Homo sapiens: one gene and its partner. The protein of the gene in region 1 interacts with the protein of each later gene in a pairwise test. Each region holds a gene or a part of one and is shown in the gene's direction. Other genes may lie near its edges.

The links. Proteins that work in one complex are often made in the same cells at the same time.
Region 2: the proteins of TMEM132D (region 1) and CNTN1 interact in a two-hybrid assay, tested with the Homo sapiens proteins (one large-scale study listed by BioGRID).

What each region holds. Positions count from the first base shown.
Region 1 is NC_000012.12:129,901,226-129,905,518, reverse strand, and holds the start of TMEM132D (transmembrane protein 132D precursor), read left to right. Parts: upstream 1-1,493; 5' UTR 1,494-2,179; coding exon 2,180-2,258; intron 2,259-4,293. UniProt on the Homo sapiens protein: Regulate neuronals morphology via inhibition of the WAVE regulatory complex (WCR), a complex that controls F-actin cytoskeletal dynamics.
Region 2 is NC_000012.12:41,024,439-41,027,938, forward strand, and holds part of CNTN1 (contactin-1 isoform 1 precursor), read left to right. Parts: intron 1-711; coding exon 712-898; intron 899-3,418; coding exon 3,419-3,500. UniProt on the Homo sapiens protein: Contactins mediate cell surface interactions during nervous system development.

The sequences.
Region 1 (4,293 bases):
AAGGAGAAAGGGGACCAGTGGTTCCAGCACGTGTTCCGCAGGCCGGCAGCATCAGCATCACCTGGAACTTTTTAGGAACGGAGATCGGAAGTCCCACCTTGACCTGCCGAGATAGCTCTGGGGTGGGCCCAGCAACCCAGGTCTAACAAATTTTCCAGTGACTCTCCTGCTGGTTCAAACTTCAGAAACAGTGAAAGAGACAATCTCTTAGGGTCTTTGCAGCGTCGACTCTTAGGAATTTTACAGGAGAGCAATACAAAGAGAAAAGGCAACAAGTTTAAGAAACAAACAAAAGAAAAAACAGAAAGACAGATATATTCAGATAAGTAGATACAGAATAAAAGACAAGAGCACATCTCAAAGGACATGAACCCAGAAAAACAATCTTCGGTAGAACAGCAGTGGCTTTTTTGATCTTCCTTGAAACTTTGAAAGCTAAAAACTCTTAAAGCATTGGTATATTTCTGCAACTACAGGCATACAGGATAAAAAAGTCCATTGCCCCCTCAGTCAGATGATAACGACCCATTTTTATCTACTGAGGTGAATTCACCTCATTAGATTCAGGGCTTGTTGGTTTACAATATTCCTTAAAAATTCTGAATGCTTTTCTTCCCTCTGAGCTTTGATGGGGTTAATTTAAAGGCTCTCGTGGAGCAAAGCAGTTCTTGGGCTACAAATTACAGGACGGTGCTTAGGGATCTTGGTGTGGGAATGTCTTAGTTGGAGATTCCGGGCGGTGTTGAGAATCATGTCTTTTATCTTCTCAAAGCAATGTTGTCTCCTAATGGATCCATTTCCTTTCCCAGTGAGCCCTGGGGAGCACACGACATGTTTCTAGGGACACTAACTTGGGGGATCGCTCTGGGAAGGGGCTTGGGGCCAGCATGACCTCAGTGTGGCGTGTCAGAGACTTCCTCACTGCGATCCCTGGGAGATGCGCAGGGCGGGGCGAGGGCCCTTCTCCAGCCATCCTTGCGCTCTCCCTGGCGAAGAGCCTCAGGTGCCCCCGGGCTGGAGGACCTCCCCTGGGCCTGAGGTTTTGATGACGACGAGAGGCCGGTGGCCAGCTGGACACCTGTTGGGAGAGTGGGTGGCTCCGTCCCCGGGGTGCGCCCGCGCTGGGAGCCCTCGCCCGCCGCCACCGCGCGTCCGCGCTCGCAGGGAGGGTGGCCGGGAGGCTGGGCGTGGGGCGGCCAGGGGGAGGTGGGATTTACTTTGCGGATTGGGGCTCACAGCTGTCACTCCGAAAGGGTGGGGCTTTTTAAAAGCAGACAAATTTTTAAGGCGAAAGCCCCAGCCGGCTCCGGGCACCGTGGCGATCGCCTCCGTTCCGTTCCGGATGCGGTCCTTGCGGAGCGGAGCCCCCGCGCCTGCTGGCAGGAGGCAGCTGCGTTGCTCGGCCGCGTCCCCGAGCCGGCGGGCCCTCCTCCGCGCACATCTGGCCCGCCTCCCCCGGGCGCAGGGGGGAGCCCCGCGTCTCCGGAGCCTGCAGTGCGCTCGGCGCGCGTAGAGCCCCGCGAGCCCCAGCCGGGCCCGGGGCCGGGCGGGCCGAGGCGGCGGCCGGGGAGCAGCCGCACCCGCCAAACTTTGGGTGCCGGAGCGCGCGCGCGCCCGAGCCCCGAGGCGCAGCGGCCGGCCTGGGATGGGGGCTGCGGGCCAGGGAGCCCCGGGCCGCCCAGCGAGCCCGGCCACCCGCCCGGGGGGCTCCGAGCCGCCTCTGCCCGCGTCCCGGGCTCCGCAGCCCCGCCACCCCGGCGCCGCCTGCGCCAGCGCCCGCTAGCCAGCCCGGGAGCAGCTGGAGCCGCCGGAGCCCTGCGCCTGGAGGCGCCCCTCCTTGGGCCACCGGGGGCCACTCTTCGCTCGGGTAAACAGGAAAGGAAATACCCCCTGTGGATTAAAATTTAAAAAAAATTCTGTTGGGGTCGAAGGAGGGAGGTGGGGTTTGCCTGCGCGCGTGTTGGACTCCGGAGAGCAACTCAGGAGCCCGCGCGGTCGTCGCCTCCCGGCCTGGCCATGGACTGGCGGGAAGAGGGAGCAGGGCGCCCGGGCTGCTCGGGCCCCTAGCCGGGCGCTCCCTCGCCACCGGCCCCGCTGCGGGCCTCTAGGGGACTGAGACGGTCTCTTGTTCGCCTGGACGGCGCCGGGGAGCGGAGGATCTGCGCTCCGGGTCTCCAGGATGTGCCCGTCTGAGATGGGGACGCTGTGGCACCACTGGTCGCCGGTACTCATCAGCCTGGCCGCCCTGTTTTCCAAAGGTGAGGACGCCGCGGCCGCCAGGGCCCGGGGACTAACTTCGCCTGGAGTGAGTGTGTGGGAGTGTGTGGAGGATGGGGGCGGCCGGGAGAGAGGGCTCGTGTGCAAGTGTGTGTGCGCGCTTGTGTGCATGTGTGTGTGCGCGCGTGTGAACGTGCGCTCGTGCGGCAGCCAAGCTCCTCGGACGCCCCTTGGCCGAAGGTGCTTGTCCTGGAGCACTTGGGTGGGAGGCCTTAGGTGAGACTACTAAGGAGCCGAAAGGAAAGGAAGGCTGTTTCCTGAAAGCCTTTTCTGTAAAGGGAGAGGGCGTGGGGACCCTTGAGAGGAAAGGTGGCCTCTGGAGGGCCGAGCCGGCTGTCGGGGGAGGAGGGGATTGAGATGACCAGGGAGATTTCTGGAATTTGGGATTGACTTTCCCTGGTGGCACTGACCTATTTGGAAATAATTTTGGAGCACTCCTGTTGTATGGGAATACTATTTTGTGTATTATAGGCTGCCAAAAATATAGCCTGGGGGGCGGCTCTGAAGAAGGGGGATGGGTTTCTCCAGGTCTGCCGCTGTGAGGTTTGGGCACAGGGTCTGGCGCTCACCCTTCCGTAGGGTGCTGGGAGCAGCAGCGGCCCCGCAGGGTGCACGTGGAGTTTCAGCTACAAGTTGTGACCCGAATTTTCCCAGCGGAGCCCTGACTTGAAGCCATGTGTCAAGGCAGGAATTCCTCAATGTTTCCTCTTCTCTTCTGCCAGCATCCCTGTCTGTCATGGGAAGAGCAAGTTTGGAAGCTCTGGACAGTCATTCTTCCTTGAAGAGAAATGGTGTGATTTGTGCGGGAGATTCTTTCTCATGATTGACCTGGGCTGCTTGTGTGTGGTTCCCCCACCCGTGCCCCTTTCCTGCAGATAGATACACTGGGAGGAGAGTGAAGCGTCTCAGCAGTCTCTAATACGTGCTGCAAGAACCCTGTACCCATATTTTTCTGCAAAGATTTTTGAGATGAGATCTCTCTCAGAAACTTCAAAGCCAATTATCACGCACAAAGTCTTTTAATTACATGAATTGTCTGTTCTCTGAGTTCTTCCAGAATCACTGAGGTTATGTTGCTTTGGATCTGATAATAGATGAAGACAGTTGAAATGCCGAGTTCTGTGATGGTTCGATTTAGAAAGAGGAATTTACGTTCCCCCTCCTTCCCTGTCTTTGAAGTGTGGTTGAAATGGGCTCACGTTTCCTAATTATGAGTTAGAACAATCCCTGGGATCAGAGCCTTCTGGATTTATAATGTGCACAGGAAACCAAAGAAAAGGTTGATGAATTCAGTGAACCTGACTCAGGCAGACGTGAGGTTAAAAAAACCAAAATCCACAGCAACAACAGCCCAGCATTTTTTTTTTGGGGCGGGGGGGGTTGGTTCTCACTTGGTTTTATAATAGGTCCAGACTTCTTTGTGTTTATGCTGCAATAACAAGGTTGTATTAAGAAAGGTACAGAATAGCTTTGGAAATAGGACCTCACTATTGTGTTTTTTCACTTAGGTACATAGGTCTGTTACTGATTTCTTTATTAGACTGAGCAGTGTTGAAGAGAATTGTATTTAGCCTAATACTTGTGAACTTTTTCAACTGGGAACACTGAACATGTCCTTAAATGAGGTCCTGTGTGATGTGGAAGCCTCTTTACTAGGTGGCCAAAAATTAGCACGTAAAATGTTTACGATAAGCCTAGCATATGACATATTTTGTGTATTGAACTTAAGCAAGTCAGCCAGACAGTTCAAAAGTGAATCAGTTCTGTGTGGAGACTTTGTACAGCAATTAGCAGAGTCTGAGCACATGGTAGATGATTCAGGATTAGTCACAATATGTCAAAGAACAAGAAAAAAATCAACACCCCTATTAGCAAATTGCATAAAATGGAATTTCATGATGCAGATGTGATTTATACATTCAGGGACAGGGCCATTCTTTTCCCAATGTGTTCATATCACCTCCCTCTAAGATTCTCTGATCACTTGAAAGTTCTCACCCATCTTGCAATCAAGTA
Region 2 (3,500 bases), about 89 Mb from region 1:
ATCCATAACTTTTCTTAAACTTTAAGAGAAAAGTAATCCTGTAATTATTTGACAAAAGTAATCATTTCTAATGAAAAAATCGATAACTTTTTTAAAAATTATTTTATGGGTAAATAATTTCTACAGTTTATCCAGTTATTAGATATATTTCTTTGATATCTAGCTTCTATATGGGTTCAAAGGAAATAACATTAGATACTTCTGAAAGGAGGCAGAAGAAAGTATTACTTTAGCGTATTCTAGGCCACATAGTAACTATTTTTATCCAGCAAAATTATATTCCTCTCCAACTGCTTTAAGAATGGCTCAGAAGAAGTTTGAAATCATGCAAACAGAAGTAAAACAGGAAATAAATGATAAAAATTATAGTGACAAATACTTCCAAATGGAGACCACTTTTATATTTTGAAAGTAAGTCTGCTTCAAAGTTTTTGGGATTTTTAAATTTTTTATTTTTTATTTTTTTTAGTCAATGTAAAACAATTTTGGGCAATGAAGTAAGACTTTGATTCGCTTTTGGCATCTTTAGTCATTCCTGCCCTGTATGCTTTACTATATTCTAAGGCTGATAAAAGGGTAGATATCATTAAGAAACATTTGAAAATATGATGATCAGCCAACACCAATGGTAATAGAACCAGTTGAAGAGAACTTTTCATAGCTGAAGACTCTAAATCATGGCAAAATATAACTCATCCTGAATGTTTGCAGATTCGGTATTGGGCTGCCCATGACAAAGAAGAAGCTGCAAACAGAGTTCAAGTCACCAGCCAAGAGTACTCGGCCAGGCTCGAGAACCTTCTGCCAGACACCCAGTATTTTATAGAAGTCGGGGCCTGCAATAGTGCAGGGTGTGGACCTCCAAGTGACATGATTGAGGCTTTCACCAAGAAAGCACGTGAGTCTCACGTTTTGTTTTTAGACTTGTCAAAAACTACCACTGGATTCAATCATGATACGAATATATTTGAAGGAAATTTCCTACCTAGCTACCTGAGCACATTTTTCAATATCCTTTACAGCCACACAAGATTTCCCTTAAAACGTGAATTATTGTAGATGATGAAAAAATGTGAAAAATACCCTCACACGTTAAATATTCCATTATAGAAATAAAGTTAGAGAACTATCCTTTTGTAAAGGCTGTCCTCTCAAATTCTGTGCCATTAACTTGTCTTTACCCTGTACTTATTAATTTAAACATTGTTTTCATAGGAGTACATCAACAGCATGTGAAAACTAAAATTCTGCTTATTTTTACATGCTTTAATTTATAAACCTCTGTCATTGCACAGTGCAATGCAAGTTAAGTGTGTAGCATTATGCTTACTCTCTTATTACTGTATGTTCTAGTACTGTATGTTTTAGGTGGTTCATAAAACAAGACCGCCTATCCCTGCTCACGTTCTGGTCATTCTAATCTCTCTGGGTTCATTTTGATATCTCTGTTCTTGAACCCAAGTGGAATAAGTAAAAAGGAGAATTTTTATGTAGGACTCTAGGGAATGTCTCAAGAATCTGAAGATGTGATTACCATTAGAGTGTGAAAATTTATGAAATTCACTTTGGGACAGAGACTCTCCCAGTGAGATGACAGAATGTAGTGACAAGAACTAGAATTTGGTGTCTAACATGTGTTTGAGATCTGTCTCTGCCACTTGCTAGATGTATGACAATAGATAAATTACCTATTTAAACCTCAGTTTTCTAATTTGTAAAAGGAGCATTCATTTTTGTTCTTTTTCCATTTGTTCATGTATTTATTCATTCATCAAAAATATGCTGTGTGCTCAGCACTATTCTTGATGGTGAGGATACAAAAGGGATCAAACCAGTCCAAGGTGCTATTCTCGCATGGTTTACAAGCTAATGAAATGAGATAGAAACTTCAAACAAACACAAACTCTGACAAATAAATAAGTGGGATTAAAGCAGCTGACAGGGCAATAAAATGAATAAATAGACAAAAGTAAAGTGACTTAGATAAAAGTGAAATTCTGATTGGGTGGCCAGGAAAGGCCTCTGAGAAGATGCCAGTTAAGCTATGATTTGAGTGATAAATGATAAGAAGAACCCACTATGTGAATAGCTTTAGGCAGAGCCTTAAGGTTCTTTGCACTCTAAGTAGTACAAAACCTTAAGGTGAAGAGCACTTAAAATATTTTAGGTGTGGAAAGGCCACTGGGTCCAGGGCATAGGTTCTGAGTAAGGAGGGGGAAGTGTTCTGGGGCCCAATTACGGAGAACCTTGTAAGTAATTGTGATGAGTTTGAGTTCTTTCTAAACATGATAAGAAGCCATTGAAAGATTTTAAAACAGAGAGTGATATCTAATTTATGATGTTGTTTTTAAAAAAGTCATTCTGGCATCTGTACAGAAAATGGATTGTGGTGGGTTAACAGTGGAAGCAGAAAAGCCAGTTAGGAGACTATTTCAGCAGTCAAGGAGAGAATTGATAGTGGCTAGCACTAAGTGAAAATGGAGACAGAAGTGGAAAGTTTTCTGTAGGCAGAGTTGACAACTTGCTGCCAATTTGGATGTTGGCAATGAGTGGGATGAGAGACTAAATACCAAATTTCTGCTTGAGAAACTAGGGGGTTGGTTGTGCCATTTGCTGACGATGGCAAAGAGTCATTGGAGAAAGATTTGAGGATACTCGACATTATATTACATTTGAAAAATGTATTACATTTGATTATATTACATTTGAGAAATCTTTTAGAGACTCAAGTAGAAATAGGCTGATATCTGCCTAGACAGAGAGACCTATAGCCACATATGTCTAGAGGTTGAAAGAGAGATTAGGGCTAGAGACAGAACTGTGAATATTTAAAGCCATGGGCCTAAGTGTCAGTACTTAGGGAAGATCCACAGAGAGAGTAGAAAAGGTACATAGATGAAGTCCTAAATCATCCAACAGTTACAAGTTGACAGAGGGAGCCAGCTAAGCATGAATAATGGGAAGCAGCAGCCCATGAGGTAGAAGGAAAACCCAGTTGTTAAGATCTGAATTTAAGAAAAAATGAGAGATTCAAGAAAGAAGATGGTCAATTCTGTGAAATGCTCCAAAAATGTTAAATTTAAAAAAGAATAATCAAGTGACATTAGATTTAACCAAGTGGAGGTGATTGATGACCTTGCAAATAGCAATTTCAAAAGACTAGTGGAGAAAGAAACCCAAGTGGAGCATGATGAGAAGAGAATAAAAGTCATATTACCTAGCTCACAGGGCCATGGGGTACATTAAATGGACTCATGGATGTAAAGTGCTTAGCATAGTGCCTGGCATATAGTAAACACTTATTAAAACTAGATGGTGGTGGTCATTATCATCAGCATTATAATACCTGATGCAATAGAGTATGCAGAATTGAGATTGGATATAGTGACCACTGATTGCATATTACTACTTTTCACAGCTCCTAGCCAGCCTCCAAGGATCATCAGTTCAGTAAGGTCTGGTTCACGCTATATAATCACCTGGGATCATGTCGTTGCACT